2 linked regions of the Homo sapiens genome follow. The protein of the gene in region 1 interacts with the protein of each later gene in a pairwise test. Each region holds a gene or a part of one and is shown in the gene's direction. Other genes may lie near its edges.

Evidence for each region.
Region 2: the proteins of INSYN1 (region 1) and PBX3 interact in a two-hybrid assay, tested with the Homo sapiens proteins (one large-scale study listed by BioGRID).

The regions. Positions count from the first base shown.
Region 1 is NC_000015.10:73,743,322-73,747,140, reverse strand, and holds part of INSYN1 (inhibitory synaptic factor 1), read left to right. Parts: intron 1-3,819. UniProt on the Homo sapiens protein: Component of the protein machinery at the inhibitory synapses, probably acting as a scaffold. Inhibitory synapses dampen neuronal activity through postsynaptic hyperpolarization.
Region 2 is NC_000009.12:125,928,855-125,932,673, forward strand, and holds part of PBX3 (pre-B-cell leukemia transcription factor 3), read left to right. Parts: intron 1-800; coding exon 801-991; intron 992-3,819. UniProt on the Homo sapiens protein: Transcriptional activator that binds the sequence 5'-ATCAATCAA-3'.

The DNA.
Region 1 (3,819 bases):
AAGAGGAAGTGTGCTTGGCATATGCAGGTTCAGCTAAGGAAGCCAGAGCAGCTGGAGGGCAGTGAACAAGGAGAAGAGTAGAGGAAAGGTCAAAGAGGGAGCAGGGAGTCAGATTCCGTCGAGCCATGCACAGCATGCACGGAATTTGGATTCGTTCTCAGTGAGAATCCCACACACTCTCCAGGAATCTGCTGGTCATGTTTCTGGGTGGGAATCTGCCTCCCCACTGCTCCCCTGTTACCCACCCACCAGAAGCTCCCAAAGGCAGGGTTAAGGGCCCCTGTCCTTGGCCCCCAGGTATTGAGCTTACCTTGAGCAGGTACTTGGCCTCCTCATCCTTGGTTTCCCCCTCCCCCAGGCGTCACTCAACATGGGGGCTCAATAGTGATCCTTGCATTAACACCAGTGTCTCCCACATCATCGGTGACTCTTGGGTGGGATATAACTTAAGGGCACAGTTGCTCACTTTGGCCCAAACACCTCAGGAAGATGGAGGGGTTGGCACAACGTTTCCCCAGCCTTGGGTGGCAGTGGAGGATCCCCCACCGGATTTGCCTAGGAAGCAGTCATCCTGGCATTCTGTTTCCTGGCCATTCCATTGTGCAGTCCCATCGGCAAGGGGCTTTGTCTGAAGGTGGCAGGGAAAGCCATAGGCCATGCAAGTGTGAGATAAATGGGGCCCAGCCAGGAAGCAGCTGGAGCAGGAGAGGCTGGGGACCACGGAGCTGCGCCAAAGTGGGTCAGCTCCATCACCTGCAGCTCAGCAAGAATTGCGTGGATTTTTTTCTTATTATTTTTGTTCACGCCTTCCTTTCCTCCCTTTTCCCTTTGCCTTCTCCTCCTCCGGACAGATTTACCAAAGCTCCCTGGCCAATTAGGCCAAATTGCAGGATGAGAGCCATGAATCACGATCAGCTCGCTGCCCCTCCAACTCCACAGCCCCCCAAGAAGATAATAACGTAATCACAGAATTAAAAAATAATCAGTGGTCATAAATAATGCAGAATCCCCAGTTATGTAACCAGCTGCCTTGGGGAGCTGGGAGAGAGGGAAGGAGGTGGCAGCTTGTCAGGGGAGGTGAGGTGGGGCAGGGTGGGGGGTGTGGTGGGGGGTCCGGGGGTACAGGATGCTGGTTCTGGGACTACAGGTCCTCAGTCCTAGCTCTAAGGCCTTAAGGAACACAGCAAAGCTTCCACTGGAGAGGGGGCTCAGCCAGGGCTGGAGAGAGGGTTGGCGTCTGGCAATATAGGATTGTCCAGGTCTATGGAACTCTTCCTCAGAAAAGAAGCCCCCAGCAGTTTTTTTGTTTTGTTTTGTTTTGTTTTGTTTTTTGAGACGGAGTCTCGCTCTGTCGCCCAGGCTGGAGTGCAGTGGTGTGATCTCGGCTCACTGCAAGCTCTGCCTCCTGGGTTCACACCATTCTCCTGCCTCAGCCTCCCGAGTAGTTTTTATTAAGCCATCTGTCTCAACTCATCACTCATCCAACAGCTGTGTTTGCAGAATGTGCCGATCCCTGTGCCGAGCTGGGGATGTAGCGGTGAGCAAGAGACCTAGTCCTGCTCCTCATGGGGTTTACTGTGTAGTGGGGAGACAGACATCAACCACGTTATAACATATAGGTGCAAAATTGTAGCAGTGTTAAATATTGTGTAACATTTTCAGGAGAGGTGCAGGGTGCTTTGAGAGCCTTTCATAGGGAACCTGACCTCAGCTGGGGATCAGGGAAGGCTTCCTTCTCGAAGTGAAGACGGAGTGAGTAGGAAAGGAGGGAGGGCGTGTCAGGTGAGGCCCAGAGGCAGAAGTGAGCTCGATGGAGTGTGAGTGTGTAGGGGTGGTGAGGAGGCAGGCCTGGCAGGGTGGAGGCTGCTTGCTGGAGAGGAAAGGGGGTGGGTAGGGAGTTATGTTTGGGAGGCTTAGGAGTTTGGGGAGTATGGAAGGGCTGGAAGCACAGGGGCAACGTGGACCTGTTGGCTGATAAGAAAGTTCCCTAGGTGCAGCATGAAGCAAGAGCTGGGAGGAAGTTGCTATCGGTGGAAAGACTAGATGGGTGCAGTTTTTCAGCGAGGGGCGCTAAGGCTGTGACCAGGACAGAGGTTGGGGACACCTCTGGCACGAGGTTTGCAGGTTCTGCCACAGCCCTCAGTCCTGCCCTTGCTCTCTAGGGCTCCCTCTTGGTCTCTTCAGAGCAAGTCATTCTTGGTCTTAAGGTGCAATGCCCAGGAGTCAAGACTCACCCTCTGGTCCCAGCTCAGCTCCTCCCAGTCTCTGAGCCTCATTGCCCCCCTCGGCAAACACATTGAGACAGGTGGACTCAACAGTGCCTGCAGTCCCTTCTGGCTTGGGGGTTGTCTGATTCTGTAATTTTATGGTTCAATTTCTCTCTCCACTCTCTCTCTCCCCCTCTCTTTCCTTCTGTGTATATAATTATTTCCATGCACTCCAAGACAATCCCAAATTACATGTAGGCAAAATGATTATTAAACCTCAGGGAAAAATCACAGATTTCAAGACATCCAAAGCAGAGAGCAAGACAAGACTGGGGTCTGCTCCACACCTGCCCTCACCATTGGCCCAGGAAACGAGGCACCAGGGAAGAGCAGTGGGGATTGTGAACTGACCCAGGCCCCCCACAGAGAAGCTGCATACCCTTGGGCACATGGCTTCCCTTTCACATCCTCACTATGTCATTCATCAAGTGGTGTGACCTGTCTCACCTAATAGGTTGGGCCAGATTTGCCTGTGGGCCTCATAGCCAGTTGGTTTTTAGAACTTCTTCTGGTTCTGTTCTTTCTGGAGACAGCCCTAACTTTGGGCAAAATAGGTACTGTCCATGTGCTAGGTTTTGAAAGGCCTGGCATGTCCCATTATTCTGCCACAGGCACTGGAAATTCTGCCACAGTCACTGGACCCACATCAGAGGGTCATTCCTTTGGTGCAGAACTAATTCCCACTGCTCTTAGGCCTGGTGCGGGGGCATGATCACATGTTAGCCCCCAACGGTGCATTGTAGATGTTGGTAGTCTGCCTTGTTCCATATGCTGTCCAAAGCGCATTAAGCCATTAAATCCTCACAACAGCCCTATCAAGTAGGTATTACTAGAATTCTCCTTTGATGATGAACTTAGGCACAGAGACGTTGAGTAACTTGGCCAAGGTCACACAGCTGGTAAGCAGTGAAGCCAGGGTAGGACTCCATGTCTGGCTCCAGAGCCCAGGTTCTTAAGTATTTAGCTATCTTGACTCTGTGACACATTCATATCTGTTAAATTTTCTTTTTCTTTCTTTTTTTTTTTTTTTTTTTTTTTTTTTTTTGAGACAGAGTCTCTCTCTGTTGCCAGGCTGGAGTGCAGTGGCGCGATCTCGGCTCACTGCAATCTCCGCCTCCTGGGTTCAAGAGATTCCTCTGCCTCAGCCTCCCGAGTAGCTGGGACTCTATGCACGCACCACCACGCCCAGCTAATTTTTTTAATTTATTTTTATTTTTTAGTAGAGACGGGATTTCACCATGTTGGCCAGGATGGTCTCAATCTCCTGACCTCATGATCTGCCCGCCTCGGCCTCCCAAAGTGCTGGGATTACAGGCATGAGCCACCACACCCGGCCCATATCTGTTAAATTTTCATCACCCTGGGTGAGGAGGGGAGTGTTACTTCCTTTTATAGGACAGGAAATCAAGCCCCAGAGGGGGATAATCATCTGCCTAAGGTCTCTCAGCCAAGAGGTGGCAGACGTGGGACTCGGGAATGCAGGCCTCCCTCTTTCTCTTTCCTCCATCCCCCCAGGTTGGAACCAGAGAGGAGTGTACTAATAAAGAAGAGG
Region 2 (3,819 bases), on another chromosome or scaffold:
TGGCTTATATCCACTAAAGGCCTGCACTACAGCTAAATTATAATAGGTCATTGGAATGCTTGGCACGCAAGGCCCTTTATGTGCTAATTCAAACCTGAATCCTTTTGCTTCTTTACATATTATCTGTATTCCTATTTGCCATTCTCTGAACTTGCAACATACTGTTATTTCTAGTACCTGGAATTCCTCCTGACTTCCATCTTTATCCACCTTTCAAAGATGCTACCTATTGTTTAAAGCTCAATCCGTGAAGCCTACAGATGAAAATATTCCTTCCTTGGAACTTAATATCTTCCTGTTAGTCTTTGCACTGAATTAGTTTTTTATACATTTTTTCTCACCAAAGGCCAGGCCTGCATCTTGCTCATTTCTGTGTTCCTTATAGCACTGGCAAGAGTTTGAACTTTGTAGTTGTTCAGTAAGCATTTGTTGATTAAATGTAAAACTCCAGAGAAAATAGGTGGTACTTAGTATTAACAATTAACATATATTTTTACTTGTATATGGGAATTGATAGGGAGCATCCTCGAATGGGAAAACATCATTTTGGAACTGGACAGGGGTGGGTGGGAAGAGTAGTTGAATGCTGTCTCCTTGCACGTCTGACCATGCACGGTTTCAGAATTCTTGCTGCCTTAACTACTATTACTACCATTTTACAAGTGTCTTAGTTTTCATTTTACCCTACACACTGTATAATGCTATTGGTGAATGCAAATGAGGTGTAAATTCAGATGAGTGAATGTCTTCGTGTGATAGTAGATAGTTTCCAAAGGAGTGATTTTTTTTTCCCATTACAGGCATGTAATGAATTTACTACACATGTGATGAACCTTCTCCGAGAACAGAGTAGAACACGTCCCATTTCTCCAAAAGAGATTGAAAGAATGGTGGGCATCATCCATCGAAAATTTAGTTCCATTCAGATGCAGCTCAAACAAAGCACTTGTGAAGCAGTTATGATTTTAAGATCAAGGTTCCTTGATGCCAGGTATGTGAAGCCATAAATCTATTGCATGGCTTTCCCCCGTCTGTCACTCCTTGTGTATTATTTTCTGTAAAACTGACCAGTTGGTCTTAGATTCTTTTGGCCATATGAGTCTTTTGTACAATGGACAGGTAATTCAACTCATGGTTCCTGTGCTGTCAAGCTTTCCTGTCTGGGAATGGTAATGTGGGTTAGCTGCCAGTTTAGTGACTCAGGAAATGAATAGGATTAGTGTCTCTGCTAATGACTTTAGGAATATGTAGCCTTTCCATTCTGATGCTAAAAGGTATTTTTAAGGATAGTTTTCTGCATATAACTGTTTTAACAAGGGGTATTTTGTAAGAATTTCTTAATGTTACACGGGTTGTGCATAATATGGGAAAATACTTGGAGATACTGATACTCCTAAGAAGGAAGTGGCATTTCAGTTAATAGCAGTTACCACAAAACTCCAGAATCTGTATTTCCAAATCAAGAAAGAAAGCCTACCATTTTTCCTGTAAGGATGAAAATTTCCCTTTATCTGAAGCTTTCCCCAAGTTTCACAGGAGTTAGGTAATATATTGTATATGGTAATAAATTGTCTACAGTGACCTACTGAGTGACAGAACAGAAGAATTGTCAACGTCATAGTGTACGCTGCCCCTGTAGGGATGCCTCTCGGGGCATTGCTAAAGCTTATGATGAATCTGCAGCTTTGGAAAGAAGTTTCTATTTTGTTTTTCTTTCTTCTCCCATGGAATCTGACAGAGGTGATAATTATCATCCAAATCTCACAGTATTAAAGGAAATAACTAAGATAGCTTCTCAACTGGAAAACAAAGTGTGTGGAGCATTTTCAGTGTTTTTCATTTTAGCTCTTTATTTTCATCTCAGTTCCTGCCCATCCTTTTGTACATGGGCTAGCACAGTACCTACTAGTCTCCCTGTCTCCAGTCCTACTGCCCTCCAGCCCATCCTCCATATCCCTTGTCTGTTTCTATAACATCACCGTGCTACCATGATTGCTTTGCTTGAAAACCACAGTAGCTTTCCAATGCTCGATACATGCATACTTCACATATACACTCCTTAACCTGACATTTAAGGCCTGTTCCTGTCTGCATTACTTCTTTGTTGTTGTGAAGATTTTATTATTCTTTTTTCTATTTTAAAAATGCCAAGCTCACTATGGAAAGTTTGGAAAATATATGGAATAAAAGGATGAAGGATAAAAGTTAACCTCATTTTTATTACCTAAAGAAAAAATCACTATAAATGTTTTACAATATTCTCTCTCTTTTTGTTTGTTTGGGGGCTTTTTAAAAGAAATATTTCTGTGATGGGTCAATATGCATAATTTGGTCTGCTTTTTAAAAAATTTACCATGAATACATGAACATTTTCATGTAGTATAAGCTCTAATTATTAATAGCATTTTAACAATTGAAGTTACCAAATGGATATAAAATAAATAATGTCCTTAGCATTCCCTTATGCATTCCCTATGCACTCCACCCAGGCTGGAGTGCAGTAAATGATGCTATCATGGCTCACTGCAGCCTCGACATCCCATGCTCGAGTGATCTTCCTGCTTCTGCCTCCCGAGTAGCTGGGAGGCATTTGCCACCATGCTCGGATAATTTTTGTATTTTTTGTAGAGATGGTGTTTCACCATGTTGCCCAGCCTGGTCTTGAACTCCTGAACTCAAGCTATCCTGCCTCCCAAAGTGCTGGGATTATAGGCAGGAGCCACCATGCCCAGCCAACTATTAATTTTCATATAATTTCTTCCTTTCTTCCTTCCTTCCACAAATATTTATTGGTACTGAGGATATATTGGTAAACAAGACAGATTAATATACTTGCCCCAATTGAGCTTATATTCTACTTGAGGAAACAGACAGTAAACAGGTGAACAAATATACCATAACATTCTATTTAATAATGTAATTAAATGTAATAGGGTGATAAGTGGTATGCAGAAAAATAAAGCAAGTCAAGGGGAGAGAAAATGGAGAGGGTACTATTTTAGATAGATTTTTATTTAAACTAACATTTTAATGAAAATCTTCATTGATTGAACCTTTTTGGTCTTTAGGATTATTTCCTAAGGATCAATTCTTAGAAATGGAATTATTAGATCTGAGTTTGAACATTTTCAGTGTTCTTATTTATATATCACTAAATTGTTCTTTCCTGTGTTTCTTCCAAAATGAAATGCTTCATGGAATTATGTTTCTACTGCTTAGAATTCCTTCTTTTCCTAAGTCTAACCACTTACTTCCCTGGCTCCCACAACAAACTGTCTCTCTAAGCTGGTTACCAGTAATGAGTCATCATCTGTGAGGGTATCTGGAATGGAGCCCGGAATGGAACCAGTGCTTGTACTTGTTGGATCTAGTGAGATCTTGCTCATCGTTCCGGATCTGGTCTAAATGCTCGCTTTTCAGAAAATCCACCTTAATCACCCTGCTGGACTAGCCCTTCCTTCCCTTGAACACTTATACTATGTTTACGCAACTATTCAGACTGAAAGTCATGTAGGCTCCTTTTTCTTGTAGTTTTTCATGAACATTTCTTCTCTCCCTTAGTAAGCCACAGTGTCATTGAAAGCAACAGCCAAGACTTACACATTTGCATTCCCCACAATTCTAGCAAATGACTTACATGTTAGAGGCTACCAAAAATAATTTATTGACTGGCCAGATGAATGAATAATTCCACTTAATACTTTGTAACAGCTCAAATCAGGGTTAGAGAGGTAGCATCAGACGACAAAAAACATTTTAAAATTATTTGTCTAATTTGAGCATTTTAATAAAAAGCATTATGTAACAAAGATAGTAAAA